Linked DNA regions of Homo sapiens: all the other regions are linked to region 3. Evidence: fine-mapped expression QTL. A gene starts in region 3. Each other region holds a variant in brackets. All regions are shown on one strand. Distances are between the middles of the regions. Region 1 has its middle 64 kb from the start of FAM170A. Region 2 overlaps HSD17B4 (hydroxysteroid 17-beta dehydrogenase 4). Region 3 holds the start of HSD17B4 (hydroxysteroid 17-beta dehydrogenase 4).

What was found. PIP is the estimated chance that this variant, and not a neighbour inherited with it, causes the effect. A credible set is the group of variants that fine-mapping cannot tell apart.
Region 1: its variant is the best candidate, but not a certain one, in a credible set for the expression of HSD17B4 in stomach (GTEx, PIP 0.56).
Region 2: its variant is the best candidate, but not a certain one, in a credible set for the expression of HSD17B4 in Th1/17 cells (Schmiedel 2018, PIP 0.75).

The regions. Positions count from the first base shown.
Region 1 is chr5:119,690,443-119,696,679 of GRCh38, forward strand. No RefSeq gene overlaps it. Among named protein-coding and RNA genes, the nearest start is that of FAM170A, 64 kb to the left of the region's middle. The variant A/C (reference allele first, on the strand shown) is at 3,462.
Region 2 is chr5:119,486,397-119,492,633 of GRCh38, forward strand. It overlaps HSD17B4 (hydroxysteroid 17-beta dehydrogenase 4), which reads left to right. Exons shown (of 24, transcript NM_000414.4): 9 at 2,796-2,887; 10 at 5,704-5,728. Among named protein-coding and RNA genes, the nearest start is that of HSD17B4, 37 kb to the left of the region's middle. The variant G/C (reference allele first, on the strand shown) is at 2,960.
Region 3 is chr5:119,448,945-119,455,181 of GRCh38, forward strand. It overlaps HSD17B4 (hydroxysteroid 17-beta dehydrogenase 4), which reads left to right and starts at 3,553. Exons shown (of 24, transcript NM_000414.4): 1 at 3,553-3,689. The coding sequence starts at 3,632. RefSeq lists an enhancer at 3,654-3,703.

The sequences.
Region 1 (6,237 bases), 240 kb after region 3:
ATTCCGTGGGCGTAGGACCCTCTGAGCCGGGTGTGGGATATAGTCTCGTGGTGCGCCGTTTCTTAAGCCAGTCTGAAAAGCGCAATATTCGGGTGGGAGTGACCCGATTTTCCAGGTGCGTCCGTCACCCCTTTGTTTGACTAGGAAAGGGAACTCCCTGACCCCTTGCGCTTCCCAGGTGAGGCAATGCCTCGCCCTGCTTCGGCTCGCGCACGGTGCACGCACACACTGGCCTGCGCCCACTGTCTGGCACTCCCTAGTGAGATGAACCCGGTACCTCAGATGGAAATGCAGAAATCACCTGTCTTCTGCGTTGCTCATGCTGGGAGCTGTATACCGGAGCTGTTCCTATTCGGCCATCTTGGCTCCTCCTCTCCAAATTCTTAACACATTCCAGCACTAACTCAAAAGTTCACGTCCAAAGTCTCATCTGAGACAAACAAGTTCTTTCCACTTATGAGCTAGTAGAATCAAACACAGGTTAGTTCCTTCCAAGAGACAATATGGGTACAGGCATTGGGTAAATACACCTGTTCCAAGTGGGAGAAATTGGCCAAAACAAAACGGCTACAGGCCCCAGGCAAGTCTAAAATCCAATAGGGCAGTCATTTAACCTTAAAGTTCCAAAATGATCTTTGACTCCATGTCTCACATTCAGGGCACGCTGATGCAAGAGGTGGGCTCTCATGGTCTTGGGCAGCTCTGCCTCTGTGGTTTTGCAGGGTACAGCCCCCCTCACTGCTTTCATAGTTGACATTGACTGTCTGTGGCTTTTCCAGGTGCATGGTGCAAGCTGTTGGTGGATCTACCATTCTGGGGTCTGGAGGACAGTGGCCTTCTTTTGACAACTCCACTAGGCAGTGCCCCACTGGGGACTCTGTGTGGGGACCCTGACCCCACATTTCCCTTCTGCACTGCCCTAGCAGAGGTTCTCCGTGAGGGCTCTGCCCCTGCAGCAGACTGCTGACTAGATATCTAGGCATTTCCATACATCCTCTGAATCTAGGTGGAGGTTCCCAAACCTCAGTTCTTGTCTACTGTGCACCTGCAGGACCCACACAGTGTGGAAACTGCTAAGGCTTTGGGCTGGCATCCTCTGAAGCAATGGCCTGAGCTATACCTTGGCTCCTTTTCGCCATGGCTGTAGCAGCTAGGATGCAGGGCACCAAGTCCAGAGGCTGCACACAGCAGGGAGGCCCTGGACCCTAGGCCTGGCCCAGGAAACCATTTTTCCCTCCTAGACCTCTGGGCCTGTGATGGGAGGGGCTGCTGCCAAGTTCTCTGAGATGCCCTGGAGACATTTTCCCCATTATCTTGGTGATTAGCATTTGACTCCTCATTACTTAAGCAAATTTCTACAGCCAGCTTGAATTTCTCCCCAGAAAATGGGTTTTTCTTTTCTTCTGCATTGTCAGGCTGCAAATTTTCCAAACTTCTATACTCTATCTTCACTTGAATGCTTTGCTTAGAAATTTCTTCTGCCAGGTACCCTAAATCATCTCTCTCAAGTTCAAAGTTCCACAGATCTTTAGGGCAGGGGCAAAAAGCCATCAGTCTTTTTGCTGAAGCAGAGCAAGAATGACCTTTACTCCAGTTCCCAACACATTTCCCACCTCCATCTGAGGCCACCTTAGCCTGGACTTCATTGTCTGTATTACTATCAGCATTTTGGTCAAGGCCATTCAACAAGTCTCTGGGAAGTTCCAAACATCCCCACATCTTTCTTCTTCTGAGCCCTCCAAACTGTTGCAATCTCTGCGTGTTACCCAATTGCAAAGTCACTTTCACATTTTCGGGTATCTTTACATAATTGTCCTATTCTCTGCAGTAGCAACGTACTGTGTTAGTCCGTTGTCATGCTGCTATGAAGAAATACCCAAGACTGTGTGATTTATAAACAAAAGAGATTTAATTGACTCACAGTTCTGCATGGCTGGGGAGGCTTCAGGAAAATTACAATCATGGTGGAAGGCACCTCTTCACTGGGTGGCATGAGAGAGAATGACACAGTGGGGGAAATGCCAGATGCTTATAAAACCATCAGAACTTGTGAGAACTCATTCAGCATGGGGAAACCGTCCCCATGATTCAATTACCTCCCACTGACACGTGGGGATTATGGGAACTACAGTTCAAGATGAGATTTGGAGGGTTGGGGGCACAGCCAAACCATATCATACTCTAAGGAGATAGAAGACCTGGTTTGTAATTCTAATGCTAATATTAGCAGTCTCTTTTGTAAGTTACTTAAATGCTCTGATTTGGCTTGAATTCCTTCATAAAGCAGATCCTATGTCAATGGCTTGAGAAATAGTTCCCATGTATATAGTGTATATATATATATGTACACTGTTAACTATCATAACCTAATCCAATAAAGCAGAATAAGCGTGATGAATTGGGAAGAGTGAAATGGGAAGGAAGACAGCCCATCTAAGGATGCATTTTTAAGAAAACGTCTGGGGGGAGATGGAGGTCAAAGCTTCTCTATACAATGTGCTTCAGAATCATCCATCCATGGGGATGTGTGCACCTCTCATGGGGAAGATGGAAATATTTATCTACCAGTTACTATCCTCTTTGATCGAAGGTTGTTCCAGGGTTGTTAATGCTCTCACACTTCTAGGTTTGCTCATGACTCAGCATAGACCAAACCTCACTGGACAGAGAAGCCTGGGGCAGAAAACAAATGAGAGGCAGTGCAGCTTGAGGGTCATTTTATCAAGATGTATCTGAGGCACCACTGATTGCCACATAAATGGCTTGAGTAAAGTGACAGGCCAAGGGGATGTAAGATGGGTTATAAAATGTATTTGGCACACTCCTTTACATTAGCATACACATAGTTTGATTATGTAAGTTATTTGCTCTACATGTGTTGATGTACATTTTCTGTTATTAGAACTATGTCAATGAGGAGATTAAATGAGATGTGTGTGAGAGTGCCCTGAAATATAAATCATATATAGAACTGTTCATTTTATATTAAGTTCTCCAAAGTTGAAAGTTAAACAGTGGTTGAACTTTTTTTTTTTAACTCATCAGTCTGTAGTTACTTGTGAAATCAGTGCCTCCTCTTAGTTCACTATATAACTGTACATGGATTTCAGCACAAGAAAATTGCTTTGAAGACCCAACAGGGCATACAGGACTAAATTCCAAATTGACATTGATGTGATCATTGAATTGTAAAAGCTCAAATAATTAATCTGTTTAATGCCTACTCATTTGGCTACTTACTTTCTTGGATGCTCTACCCCTAATATTCTGAGGTAAAAATTAAATAGAACAGAATAAAAGTTTATCCTAACTAGGTTAAAATGAGAGGCAGTGTGGCACTTCCTATTCTTTAGTTTAAATCAATCTGTGTTTTCCAAACTAAAATACAACTTTGAAATGTTTAATCTAATGCGTTGTCTTCCTGCTTTATGCTTGAATTCTCACTTCTTCACTCAGCCACT[A/C]TGGGATGTTGGTCATATTGTTGAACCTTTCTGGGCTTCAAGTTCCTCATTGCAAAATTGGAATATTAATATTTAATCCAATGACTTGTTATGAGGATAACTATAATGTCTTTGGAAGAGTTCTCGAAACTTAAAGACATTCAATAAGGGTTAGCTGCTATTATTACAATTATTATCACCATTTGTTTGACAAAGATCTGCAGCTTTATTTTCTGAGGGTTTAAATGTAGTGGTTATTTCTATTAATTCAATTAAATAATGAGCTTCTCTAATCTAACATTTTATATAAAACATAAAGGCTCTGAGAGTTGTCTTAATGTCCTGACTGAGAGATATTAAGTATAAAATCTTTTGACCCTTTGATAATACTTCTGACATCGTGAAAGCACTTAGCCTTTCTAAAGTTGGTTTTCTAAACAGAAAAATGATATCCCTGCCTGTATTAGTTTGTTTCAGCACTGTTATAAAGAACTACCTGAGACTGGCTAATTTATAAAGAAAAGAGGCTTGAGTCACAGTTACACATGGCTGGAGAGACCTCAGGAAACTTTCAGTCATTGTGAAAGGCAAAGGGGAAGCAAGGCATGTCATCTTACATGGTAGCAGGAGAGAGAAAAAGAGAGAGCAAGTGAGGGGGAAATTGCCACACTTTAAAACTATCAGAGCTTGTGAGAACTCGCTCACTATCATGAGAACAGCATAGGGGAAATCCACCCCTATGATCCAATCATCTCCCACCCGGTCCCTCCCCTGACACGTGGGGATTACAGTTCTACTTGAGATTTGGGTGGGGACACAAAGCCAAACCTTATCGCTGCCCGTAGCTGATTTAGAAATGACTTAAAAAGTCAAATACCTTGAAGAGGAATAATGATTTTGATAATGCTGTGTATTTATAAAAGTAGTTTTCCCCCCAAAGAGTTTGATGTGCCCTTATTTTTATTCCATTTAAGCCACATGTTCTCTTTGAAGGAGATTAGGGCACACACAGCATCTATGTAACAGATCTCTGTCTCATAGCCTTATATAAAAGATCGTAAGTGCAGCCCAATGTAATGAAGAGCTTGATTCATTTTTTTGAAGATTGACTGCTGATAGCTTAAGCCCCACCCCTCCCTCTTTCCCTTCTGCCCCAGTTTTGTGCACATTGATAAGAAAGCCTGGATACTTCCTCCTTTGGCCCCTGTGGGAAGTTCAAATCACATAAGCCCCTGCCTGGGCACAGGAACCCTCACGCCAGCCTCAGCCCCTAACCACCATAAAAACCTCATGCCAGTCTCCTTTCCCTGTTCTTGCAAGCCATTTTCAGTTCAGCTTGGGAAGCCAGCCCTGCTTCCCAGAAAGCCTCAGGTAAGTAATAAAGCTTCTCATAGCCTCATGGTATGTGTCATCAAACTTGGCATTCCAACTAAATATATTCTTCCACTCAACAGGCTGTCTCTTTACTCGGTTGATGATTTTCTTTGCTCTGCAGAAGATTTCAAATTTGTAGTCCCTTTTCTCTATTTTTGTTTTTGTTGCCTGTGCTTTTAAGTCTTAGTCATAAATTCTTTGCCTAGACTGAAGTTCAAGAGGGTGTTCTCTAGGGTTTTCTCCAGCATATTTATATTTTTGTGTCCTATGTTTAAGTATTTAATCCACCCTGAGTTGATTTTTGTATATGTTGAAAGATAGAGGTACAGTTTAATTCTTCTGCACGTGGTTATATAACATATTTTCCCAGTACCATTTATTGAAAATGGTGGCCCTTTACAAGGGGTGTTCCCAATATAAATTTTTATCAGCTTTTTCAAAGATCAGTTGGCTGTAAATATGTGGCTTTATTTATAAGTTCTCTATTCTGTTCCATTGGTCTATGTATCTGTTTTTATAGCAGTACTATGCTGTTTTGGTTTCTGTAGCCTTATTATATATTTTGAAGTCAGGTAATTTGATGTTTCCAGCTTTATTCCTTTTGCTCGGAATTGCTTTGGCTGTTTGCCAGGTTGGTTATTTGCCCATTTTTTTTCTATTTCCTTTAAGAATGATGTTGGCATTTTGATAGCAATTGCAATGAATCTCTAAGTTGTTTTGGGGAATATGGTCAATTTAATGATATTAATTCTTGTGATCCACGAGCATGAGAATTTTTCCATTTGTTTTTGTCATCTCCAGTTTCTTTCACCAGTGTTTTATAATTTTCGTTGTAGAGATCTTTCATCTATTTAGTTAAATTTACTCTTAGGTATTTTACTTTTTTGGTAGCTATTATAAATGGGATTGCTTTCTTGATTTCTTTCTTGACTGGATCATTATTGGTGTGTATAAATGCTACTGATTTTTGTATGTTGAATTTGTATCTTTCAACTTTATTGAATTCATTTATCAAATTTAAGAGGTTTTTTGGTGGAGTCTTTAGGTTTTTCTAGATGTAAAATCATATTATCAGCAAAGAGGGACAATTTGAATTCCTCTTTTCCAATTAGGATGTCTTTTGTTTCTTGCTATTACCTGATTGCTCTGGCTAAAGTTTTAGTAATGTGTTGAATTAAGAGTGGTGAAAACGTGCATCCTTGTCTGGTTTCGGTTCTTACAAAAAGGCTTTCAACTTTTCTCCATTCAGTATGATGCTAAATGTGGGTTTGTTGTGTATGGTCTTTATTACCTTGAGGTATGTTCTTTCTATGCCCAGTTTGTTGAGAGCTTTTAGTATGAAGGGATGCTGAATTTTATCCAATTCTTTATTTTCATCTATTGAGATGATCATATGGTTTTTGTCTTTTCTTGTGTTGATGTA
Region 2 (6,237 bases), 37 kb after region 3:
TTGTTACCTTTTTACCTCACCCCATTTCTTCCCCCAGGAGGTAATCACTTAAAGAGAATATTCATTCCCTTACCTTTAATTTTTTTTAATAAAAATTGCATGAATAAACACTTTATTGTTTGGTTTTCTTGTTTTTGATCTTTATGACATTTGTCATTTAAAAAAATTTGGGGGAATTGTACTTTGTCTTTCCATGCAATTTTAGGGCTCTAAGATTTATATAAAGCTGTAGCTCATTCGATTATATTGCTGCAAGACTGTTATGTGAATTTACTTAATTATTATTAATGAACATATCGGTTGCTTTTTAATTAATCTGCTTTTATTCTTGTACATGTGTTCTGGATTACAAGAACAAGAATTTTTCTAGGATATGTACTTCAAAGTAAAATTGTTGAGTCAGGAAGGGTACAAATGCTAATCAATAGTTAACTTTTCTTTATAATATATTTTAAATTCCAACATTTCTATTCCATTGTAGTTCAAATCTGCTGTTTCTTTTAACTTTTACTCATAGTGGCTTCCCTTCATTGTGTGCTTGGTGATTTCTAATTACCAGCTCTTTACCTGATCTTTTTCTGTATTTGTTCTGTGTTCTAAATTGGCAATGTTTTCTTCAGAGAGGATCTGTCTTTGCTACTGCTGATTACCAGGAAGCATAGCCAATTTTGTTCTGCTTCAGTCTTCCTTAAAAGTTGAAGTTCAGCGTAGAACAGTTTAGGTTTAGGACCCCATCTTGATGCTGGCCTATCTCTGAGTACCTAGGTATCAGTATTGTTATTTGTATCATTCTCAGGGCAACCCTGCCTTCCCTGTAGCATGTAGCACTAGGGACTCTTTTCTATTTTTTTTTTTTTTTTTTCTGGTTGGAGGATACCTTCTTTATCTCAGTAATGCTTTAAAAGAATCTCATTTCTGGAAGCAGAAGTATTCCTCAGAGTACTTGGCTCACTGTAATGCTAGATATCCTGACATCTAGTATTGTGGAAGAAACACTGGGTTGAGTAAGTAAACCTTTCTATTTTTGATTTCATATAACTTTATATCTTAATAGCTATGGGACTTCTCTGATCTTTTATTTACTCTCTTAAGGTTGGTTTTTTATTTATAACATTGAGTTTAATAGATGCTGGCTAACCTAGGAGTTTGAGAATGAACTGGAAAGCAAGAATATTTGCTTATATTATTAGTGATAATATATAAAATAAACTGCAAGGCAGACGTATTTTTTTGTATGTGGCTTATGTTCTTTTCTTTTTTCTCACGTAAGGTAATAGATACTCTGTTGCATTTTATAGATATGTTTATTTCTCATTCAGTTTGAAGTTAGCCAACTCAAATATCCAAATCCCTGTACATAAATATCCTTTAACATTTAGTTTTGTCAATTGATGTATGGGAAATTAGAGGAATGTTATGTATTGAGATGAATGGATATTTAAGTTAATAATTTGTTTTAATGTACAATTTGAGATGGTTGGAGTCTTCCTTTTGTTTTTTCCTCGTGCATATAATGAAAAATGGAAGACAGGGTGCCATTGGAATGCTTGTGTACTTTTGAGAGCTTTTAGAGGCTATAAAGTGAAGAGTTTTTGCAACTACTTTTTAATTTACAGGACTATATACACCATCTTTTTTACTTTAACACATTAATACAAAATTGTATTTTGTCATTTCACAATTTTTGCATTTATTTGATCTTTTAGATAAAATTGTATGATTTGTAAGACACAAATTGTATCTCATTTGAGCCTTGGAACAACTTGGTGGAATAGGAAGCAGAAGCATTTAAATTACTAGCTTACTGATGAAGATACAGGCCCAGGGAAGTTGAATGATGGGCTCAGGTTCCTAAGTTGCTTGCATAGCAGGTTCAGTACCAAAATCAAAGTCTTCATGTTCTTCATGTAGTACCTTTCTGCTTCACCAAGGTACTCACAGAAAAGGTGCAGTGGTAAAGAGAAGTTGGCTAAGGGCTACGAAAGTAAGCTTAGATAGAAGGAATAAATTCTAGTATTTGATAGTACAATAGAGAAATTATAGATAACTATAATTTATTGTGTATTTCAAAATAGCTAGAAGAGAAGATTTATAATGTTCTCAACACAAAGACAAGATAAATGTTTGAGTTGATGGATATACCAGTTACCCTGATTTGGTCGTTACACATTGTATAAGGTATCAAAATATCACATGCACCTTCAAAATATGTACAACTATTATATATTAATTTTTAAAAAGTTCAAAAGGTAACATATGCAGTGGGAAATTAGTTCTTATACTTTGTGCACTCACCAGTGATGTCTTCAAGGTCTATTTCAATCATTATCTGCCTACCCTGGTGGTCTAGTGGTTAGGATTCAGCACTCTCAATCATTATTTGCCACTGTAATGGTCTAGGCTGTTTTGTGATTTTCTAGATTGTTGTTAATAGCTGGGAGAGTAGAATAATTTTGGGAATGAATGGTACCCAGATTTCTCATGTTAAATACAGTTTTGCTCACCAATCTTTGTCTAGGCAGTTCTAACTTTTCTTCTTCTGAACAGTATTAATATGTTACTCATCTTGGAAAGGTGTGTCTGATACTTACAATTTTAGAAGCTTGAGAGCCCTTTAGAAATGGCTCAGTTGAGATTACAAAAAGTTCTTCGCAAAGACTTAAATGTTAGACTAGTTATATACATACTAATTTTGTTCCTATTTTAAAGGTCTCTGAATTACCTATAATTTTATAAGTAAGAAATTCTTAGAAAGTAAAATGATTGATAAGATATGTGTATATTCTTTATTTCAGATCTTGTGGAAGCCCTGAAGCCAGAGTATGTGGCACCTCTTGTCCTTTGGCTTTGTCACGAGAGTTGTGAGGAGAATGGTGGCTTGTTTGAGGTATTTGCACCTTCCTGTTTTCTCTTATTAGTTTTCTCCAGTTGCTTACATTTGTAAAAATCTGTACCAGTG[G/C]ACATCACTTGTATATTTTTAAATATTGTGTCTATGTTATAATTAAAAGTGTTGACTAATATCCATTTTTTGGAAAGTAATAGTAACTTTATAAATTCTGTTTTTACTTAGTTCTACATTTGTAACATTCCTACCAAATGAAAATGTGGCTGGTTTGATCTGTTCGGTCAAAATGTGGGGAATTTCATTATTTAAGAAGCTGAATGATAAGGTGGAAAGATGAAGCTTGGAGTTTAGAGTCAACCAGGCCAGATTTTGAATTCTTATTCTGGGAATTGCAGATTTGACCTTCGTGAGCTTTAGTTTTCTGGGGCTTTCTTGTGACAACTACAAGTCATATTTTAAACCCTTGGCATAAGGCCTAATACATAGCACTCAACCACCAATTTTAATTATCAGTATAGCAGGAATTTAATCTTGTGTGATAGGTCAATAAATATAACATTATTTATTTTTACATAAAAAATGAACTTTTCTGTTTTTTTTATTGCAGAGCTTTAAATGTTTATTATAAAAATAATTATCCACACATAATCCCATCATGCAGTGAGATCCATTGTTCACTCTTTGATGAAAGTTCTTTTAGACCTTTTAAAGCCAATTTATATATTTTTGATTACTCATTTGAGTTTGATCTCTTTTTTCTAGCCTAAACTGTTGTATATTAGACCCCCCCCCATTTTAAATTATCTGTGGTAATAATGAACCTGTTGTATACAGAACCTGTTGTAAACCTGGCTCAATTTAAAGTGAGGGATATATTAGCTTATTTCATTTGAATGAAAAGCTGATGGGTAAGTTAAGACAAAAAAAACAGTTTGCATATCTCTGAGCAGATATATGCACCTCCACTTTCCTAATCACAGCCATTGGGTGTGAATTGTGGCATAGTAGAGGTAGAAAGAACTTTACAACTCTGTTTTATAGAAGAGGAAAATTTAATAATCTCAAGCCATCTGTAATTCAGAATTTTGCCTGCTCTACTTTTACCTCATTAAGGAATTTTTAAAAACTATTTATCTTTTACAGTTATGTTTATTACTAACTTTGTGAACAAAAATAATATGTGCTGTTTGTGAAAATTTCGAATATATAAGACCATATAAAAAATAAAATAAAAATTGCCTACATTATCACTATCCAGAGAGAACTAGTATGAATATTTTTATGTTTTTCCTTCCAGTCTTTTATTAGATATGTGTTTTATTTTTTATTTTTATTTTTTTTGAGGCAGAGTCTTTCTCTGTTGCCCAGGCTGAAGTGCAGTGGCGTGATCTTGGTTCATTCACTGCAACCTCCGCCTCCCGGACTCAAGTGATTCTCCTGCCTTAGCCTCCTGAGTATCTGGGATTACAGGCACCCACCACCAAACCCAGCTAATTTTTGTATTTTTAGTAGAGATGGGTTTCACCATGTTGGTCAGGCTGGTCTGGAACTCCTGACCTCAAATAATCTGCCCGCCTTGGCCTCCCAAAGTCCTGGGATTATAGGCGTGAGCTACCGCACCTGGCCTAGATAGGCGTTTTATACACCCAAACACACAGACAATTAGGATAATGCTGCAGATGAAGTTTTGTTATGTTGCTGTTTTCTTTTACTATATTGTGAACATTTTTAGTGAGGAACATTTAGCATGCATGATTGATAAACTATACTAAGAGCTGTGCATAATATCCTGACTTAAACCTTGAAAGTAAATTGCCACTTTTTGAAGTTCTGATAGATATCTAGAGTGGCAGATACAAATATTTTTTGGCTCAGCTGGAGCAATTGTTTTTAGCACCTGAGAGGAACTTGTAGCTTATTACTTCGCTTCCAAAATACAGTAAAAAGTGGTAGTTATTTTGCCTGTTATCAAAACCACTGCTGATTTGTCTAGTGTAACTTTATCAAGGCTGACTGGTTGTATCATAAAAGGTGTAGGCATATTAATATAGAGGCAAAGGATGATGAAAAGCCACACCCTTGAACTTAGAGCCACTAAGATGTCTGCTGATACATTTCTTCTATCATATGCATATGAAATTTTTGTGGTAAGTTTGGGTACACTGTAGTTGTGGTGTTTGAAGTGACAAACAGATTTTCTTTACATCAGACTCATCAGACTTTTTTTTTTTTTTTTTTAGGATTTTTCTTGAATGACCTCTAGAAAAAATTATAGCAGTGAAAATTTATCTTTCTGGGTAGCAGTTATTATTTGGTCATTTGTCTTATCTCTGCATAAAGATGTTTCATTAAAATGAGTATATGTAGTTCACTAAGTCAAATACTCATTTTATTTGGCTTTGGTTTTCTTTGTAATTCAGTAGGTCCTTCAAGAGGGACATTTATTTGGATCTCATGATATGCTAGGCAGTGTACTATTTATATTGTTTGCTTCATGGTAACCACATGAAATATGTACTGTCATTTTTATTTTACATTTGAGGAAACTTGGATCACATAATTTGGCCAGGGTAGTCAGTAGACAAATTTGTATCAAGCCTTGGTCTCTGACATCAGATTCATTCTTTTCTATTACATGCATTTCTACTTCATTGTACTGTTTTACGTTTGTGCTCCGATAACATGAGCAGTGCAAAGTCATGGGGGCCAGTGGACTCTTACAGAGCTGTATTATTTTCATCTCCTGTTGCCTTGAATTCTAATACTGCTAGTAGAGGAGCTGACTTTTTTCTAATTAAAACAATTGTATTAGTGATTTCACATTAGATGGTATAATGTTTTCCCCCTCTTTTTGGTAGGTTGGAGCAGGATGGATTGGAAAATGTAAGTCTCTCTCAGTTTTTGGTTTGTATAGATTATTTCCTTATCTTTAAACCTACATATCCAGTTGAGATGGGTAAGATTTTTGTCAAATGCCTAACCATTGGATATAGTGCTTGCATATTCAAACTTAAACATTGCTATAGCAACAGGTATTTTTAAACATTGTGATTGTCCTATAGGTCTGTGGCCCTTTCAAGACCCTATCTATTCTTCCTGTAGGTAGTCCTTATTCAGGACTTGTCCTGTTTTATTCAGAACTGGCTATTCCTTCAGACAGCATATATTGATAATCATCCTCCCATGTCTTTGACTTCCCACATGCTCGTTCTTGCTGTTTCAGCAGAGAAGTGAGTGGGAGGGAGAGCTGTTTTGGAAAAAGATGGGTTGAGCCTATTCTAGAGCAGCAGGCAAGTTCTCCAATTTTCCCATGTAATTATTTTCTTCCATGAAGCAGGAGACGTCAAGGGGAGTGAGGAATCACATTGGACAACTTACTGGGACAGAAATTG
Region 3 (6,237 bases):
TGCTCCACCCTGTCTCATTCTGATTACCTGCTCATTCTCTACCCTGGCTCATTCCGATGTCCTCTCTGTCATAACCATTTTTCCTGCCAAACCACTCACCCTGTCACTCTCTTTAAATTAGCCAACTGGAATTAGTTTAACCTGTGTGGACTAACCCTAGGCAATAGGGGAATGACACAGCAGCAGGGGCCACATGCATCAGGAATAAGGACCCCTTCCCCTCCCTTGTCCGGGTGTGCGCTCACCATTGCTCCATCTGTGAGAGTGCAACCTTCTATAGAAGTAAACTGCGTTGCTGAGAAGAAAAAAAAATTTTATATTCGAGTGCTATTTCTTCTGTGGCACCAAAACTTTATTTATAACAGAAACCAAGCTGTCAGAGCTCTGGAACCATAGCTGTCTGCTAGGTGTCTCTAGCCATAGTTTTGCTTCCCCTTCACAGATGCAGTTTGTCTAAAATTGAAGCCATAACCCCTCCAAAGCCACTCTTTCTCCACTATTTATTTTGATGAATGGCCCATCGTAATCTAGATTTTCAAATCAAAATATAGGATTATTTCAGTTGCTCTTTTCTCATATCTACATCTAATTAATCAAAAAGACTAGTTCTGAAGCAGGAAATTTTCCTGACCCCTTCATGGGTGGGGGCAGGAACTGGAGCACATAGGATCTAGAACTAGCTGGCCGCTTTGGGTCTGGCAGGGGTGGACTCCATTCACTGGGTCCCACTGCGTTCCACAGGAACGGGGAGCACAGGTGAGTGGGTGCAGGAGCTGGGGCCAGTGCATGCAGGAGCAAAACTCTATGTGGCCCTTGGCAGTGTCTAGAGGGGTACCTAAGGCCCCTGAAGCCCCAGAGGGTGTGTGTTACAGTGCTCTTTTAACTTTGCCATCCACTGATGGCTTAAATGTTAAACAGCTCAGTAGGCCCTCTGTTTTTTGGTGTGAGGCACTTGCTCTCTGCCAGTGAGGGCAGAGGGTCAGTGTGACAGCCTTTAGTGTCACACCTGTGGCACCTGAGCTCTTGTTTGGCATCCAGGAAAAATCAGGTCACAGGAACAAATTGAATAATGGTGAATGCAGAGGATTTTATTGCCGATGAGAGTGGCTGTCAATGGGAAGGGGAGCTGAAAAGGGGATGGAGTGAGAAGGTGATCTTCCCCAGGAGCAACGCCATTAAGCCATACCTCTGAAGTCGAGCTGTTTCTTCTCTCCTCTCCTCTCTGCCATTGGAGCCTGGGGTTTTTATGGGCACAGGATGGGGGGCAGGGGGACCATAGGTGGTTTTGGAAAAGGCAACATTCAAGAGGGAAAACAGGGATGCATGTTCTCACTTTGGGCTGTGTTTTCAGGCTTGAGGTTGGAGCCCTCACTGGGGACCTGCCCTCTTCTGCCCAGAATTTCCCTGCCTTCTATCCCTGTCAGTTCCATTTGCAAATACAGTTTATCTCAACATTTCTTCTTCAACATTTCCTCTGCCTTACTTCTGGTTTCCATAATTTCCCCCAAATCTTTTCTATGTTCTCCTTGCCCACCTCTAATTATTGGGGGAACCTGCCCCCAATATTTCAACATAGGTTCTTTCTATTTTCCATAAGTGTCAGTCAGCTGAGAAATAGAGAAAGAGTACAAAGGGAGGAATTTTACAGCTGGGCTGCCGGGGGTGACATCACATATCAGTAGGACCGTGATGCCCACCTGAGCCTCAAACCAGCAAGTTTTTTATTAAGGGTTGCAAAAGGGAAGGGGGTGTAAGAACAGAGAGTAGGTACAAACATCACATGCTTCAAAGGGCAAAAAGCAGAACAAAGATCATATGCTTCTGAGGGAACAGGACAAAGGGCAAAAGCAGAACTACTAATAAGGGTCCAACAAAGATCACAAGACAAAGGGCAAAAGCAGAGCTACTGATAAGGGTCTATGTTCAGCAGTGCATGTATTATCTTGATAAACATCTTAAACAACAGAAACAGGGTTCGAGAGCAGACAACTGGTCTGACCACAAATTTACCAGGGCCGGGTTTTTCCCCACCGTAGTAAGCCTGAGGGTACTGCAGGAGACCAGGGCATATCTCAGTCCTTATCTCAACCACATAAGACAGAGCAGCCGTTTATAGACCTCCCCCCAGGAATGCATTCCTTTACCAGGGTATTAATATTAATATTCCTTGCTAGGAAAAGAATTTAGTGATATCTTCCCTACTTGCACGTCCGTTTATAGGCTCTCTGCAAGAAGAAAAATATGGCTGTTTTTGCCCAACCCCGCAGGCAGTCAGCCCATATGGTTGACTTCCCTTGTTCCCTAAAAATTGCTGTTATTCTGTTCTTTTTCAAGGTGCACTGATTTCATATTGTTCAAACACACATGTTTTACAATCAATTTGTACAGTTAACACAATTATCACAGTGGTCCTGAGGTGACGTACACCTTCAGCTTACGAAGATAACAGGATTAAGAGATTAAAGTAAAGACAGGCATAAGAAATTATAAAAGTATTATTTGGGAACTGATAAATGTCCGTGAAATCTTCACAATTTATGTTCCTCTGCTGCGGCTCTAGCAGGTCCCTCTGTTTGGGGTCCATGACTTCCCGCAACATCCAATCAATCCTCCATAATGGGCAAAGTGATCTTTCCATAGTGTAAATGTGTTCCCACCACTCTCTGGAGTAATCCTACTTAAAACCGTTTTCAGCACAAAATTCAAACATCTAAACATGATCTTGCTGGCTTTGCTTTTGTGGCTTTACCCTCTTTCTCCCCAAACCTAGCTAGTGTTTGTGCTGCCTGTAATGCCCTTCTTTCTTTGCAGGGGTCGCCACTTTAGGTCCTGGTCCTCCTTCAGAAAGTTTTTCCTCTTTCTCCCCAGCGGGGATAGGGTCTGTTTATTTTGACACCATTAGCTCACTTACACACATTGGTCACAAGTCTAGGCTGCACCGTTATTGAAAGTTTACCATCTGACTCTGAGTAGCTTGAGGATCCTATCAAAACTCAGGAGATGCTCAGTAAATGTTGATTGAACTATGACTGTTCTCAACATACAAACGCAAGATCATTTAGGAACACTTGTCAAAATGTTTTTGCCCCTTGAGATTCTATTTTGGGAGGTAAGCAGTGGGGGTCCAGGACTCTGCATTTTGACAGTCCCCTGATGTTTGCATGTAGAAGTGCAGGGATTATTACACTGACAAATCTTTACCATCCCTAAGGGGGACTTTCCTTCCCAGGGGCTATCTCTGGAAGCCCCTCAAGGATAGGGGCCGCATGCTGTTTCTCTAGGTCAGCAACTAAACCCAGAAAACGTTTATTGAGTGAATGATGAAACGACAGGTGAATAGATGAACGCAAGGTGTCGAGTTAACTATTCTTCTACACAAGTCCTAGCAGCTCCCATTGCTTCCAGCCGCAGAAATGGCCCCTGGAAGGCAAGTCTTCCAGCGAGTGGAGTCACTCTTAACTACATTTCCCAGGATTCCAAGGGAGCCGCGCGCTCTGCGCTCATCTTCCTACCAGAAATCGGCAAGTCACTGACCCTCGTCCCGCCCCCGCCATTCCCCGCCTCCTCCTGTCCCGCAGTCGGCGTCCAGCGGCTCTGCTTGTTCGTGTGTGTGTCGTTGCAGGCCTTATTCATGGGCTCACCGCTGAGGTTCGACGGGCGGGTGGTACTGGTCACCGGCGCGGGGGCAGGTGAGCATGCGAAGGTTGGAGGCCGCGCCCCTTGCTGAGGCGCAGCTGGCTGCTCTTTTCGGGCCGGCATACGCGCGCAGCCGCAGCTGAGGTCACCCCGCTGAGGTGGTGGGGAGGGGAATGGTTATTCTTGAGGCACCGCATCTCTTGAGGAGGAAAGAGCCGGAAACACCTGGTCTCTCAAGCAGGTACAGCCCGCTTCTCCCCAGCACCCCGGTGTGGGCTTCCCAAGGTCCTGCCTGAGAGGAGAGGCCAGGCTGGGCTGCTGATTGCAAAACTGGGTGAAAGTTCTCCCTGACCCTTATCTGTGGGCATCGATTGTTACTCTTCCTGCAATTAACTCTCTTAGATCTTTGCCTAGTCTTTTAAAGGACTGAAAAGCCGCGAGGGGCGGGGGCTGGAATTCGCCCCCTGAAGCGCAGAGATGTCAGCTCCTGAAAAGTCATTCGGTCGTTCAGTGTTTGTTTCCCTCTGTCGTAAGATTTTAAGTTCGTGAGAGGACCTTCTTTAAAGAGGGCGTCTGATAAGAGCCCTTCCCCGTTGGAGTTTGTATGCTTAGCAAGTCACAATCTGTTCTCGAAATCCACTGGAGTCTTGGCAGAGGTTGTAAGCTCAAATGCGCACAGGGGTCAGGCGTATGATGGAGAAAGAAAATGGGAGTAGGATGGGCACATCTGAGGAACTGGAGAGCAGAGAATTCCGAAGTGGACCGGCCAGTGGGAAAGTTGCCTGTATTTCAGGAGCGGCAAAATGGAAAATTGTTATGTGAAATAGCCCCATTTTTTAAAGTACAAAAAATTAAAACAAACCATTCATACCAACATAGATGCTGTGCAGTGAGATTTTACATTAGTTTCTCACCAGTGGGTGACCTCTGTAACCTCCAAGTGCAGGGATCTTGACATTATGCACCTTTGATTCTCCACTGGTAGTACCTTATACCTGGAAAGGCCCTAATGCATGAATTATTTGAGTTATATATTAAACGTTACAAACTGGAATTCTGTCAATTAATTCCTATGTACTTTCATATCTGTATTGATAAAGTGGCTTCTTATGCTGCCTTTCAGAAAATGCTTTCAGTGTTGATGAATAGCCAAGTATTTTATACCCATAGCTGTCTGGTTATCTCTGCATGGGCATGTATTTGGGTGTAGTCATACCTTCTAAATGTTTTTAGGAAAACATTTTGTTTACACTTTGCTTTTATTGTAAATAATGTATTTTACAACGCTTGGTGTTTTAAATCTTTTTTGACAGCTCTTGGATAATTTTCATGCAGGAGGTCCAGGGATTACATTCTAAGACGTTTTTGCCATCGCTAAGGAGACTTTCCTTTTCAGGGGCTATATCTGAAAATCATTCAAGGATAGGGACTGCTTCTTTTGACACCATTAGCATACTTACACATGGTATGCAGTACATTTTACACCAGTACTCAGTACACTTACACAAGCACATACATCTGTATTTAAAACCAGTTCATGATATAGTGTGTAGTACAGGCAATGCATCCTGAAATTTATTTTCTATTCTGTTTTATTTATAAATTGTAATTGTAACCCACAAAATTGATTTTGTGAAACAATGAGTTGTGACTAGACAGTTATGAACTTAGCACCTGCTGTTCATAAACTGGTTAAATTCTCTCTTACCCATTCAGAGTTGATTAAATTTTTTTTTTTTTTCAGAGCTAAAGGTTTTACTCTGTACCCAGGCTGGAGTGCAGTGACCCGATCATGGCTCACTGTAACCTTGAACTCCTGGGCTCAAGTGATCCTTTTGCATCAGCTTCCAGACTAGCTAGGACTGTAGGCATGTGCCACCACGCCCAGCTAATTTTTAAATGTTTTCAAGAGATGGAGTCTCGCTTTGTTGCCCAGGCTGGTCTCAAACTCCTGGCCTCAAGTGATCCTTCTGCTTGGATTAAATTCTAAAATAAGTTATTTGGTGAAATTTCCTAGTTTTGGAAAACTGTATATTTTTGGTTCTTTTTGTTTTTGTTTGAGAGGGAGTTTTGCTCTGTTGCCGAGGCTGGAGTGCAGTGACATGATCTTGGCTGACTGCAACCTCTGCCTTCCGGGTTCAAACAATTCTCCTACCTCAGCCTCCCAAGTAGCTGGGGGTACAGGTGCACACCACCAAGCCCAGCTGATTTTTGTGGTTTGAATAGAGACGGGGTTTCACCCTGTTGGCCAGGCTGGTCTTGAACTCCAGACCTCAAATGATCCGCCCACCTCTGTCTCATAAAGTGTTGGGATTACAGATGTGTGTCACTACTCCTGGCCTTGGGTTGTTTTTGGAAGGGGCTAATAATTTATGTATCTCAGTTTGTTATTTGTATACTTATTGATTAATTTATACTAAATATAAATTGTTAATTAAATTTATTCATTTGTCAATGAAATTTATCAATTAACTTAAAATGTAAAAAATATACACATATTAAAAAATGTAAACAATACAGAAAAACAATCCAGAAGTAAGCCTTCCACCCCTTATTGCTAGCCACATAGTTCTGTCCTCCAGAGGTAACCACTAATTGCCA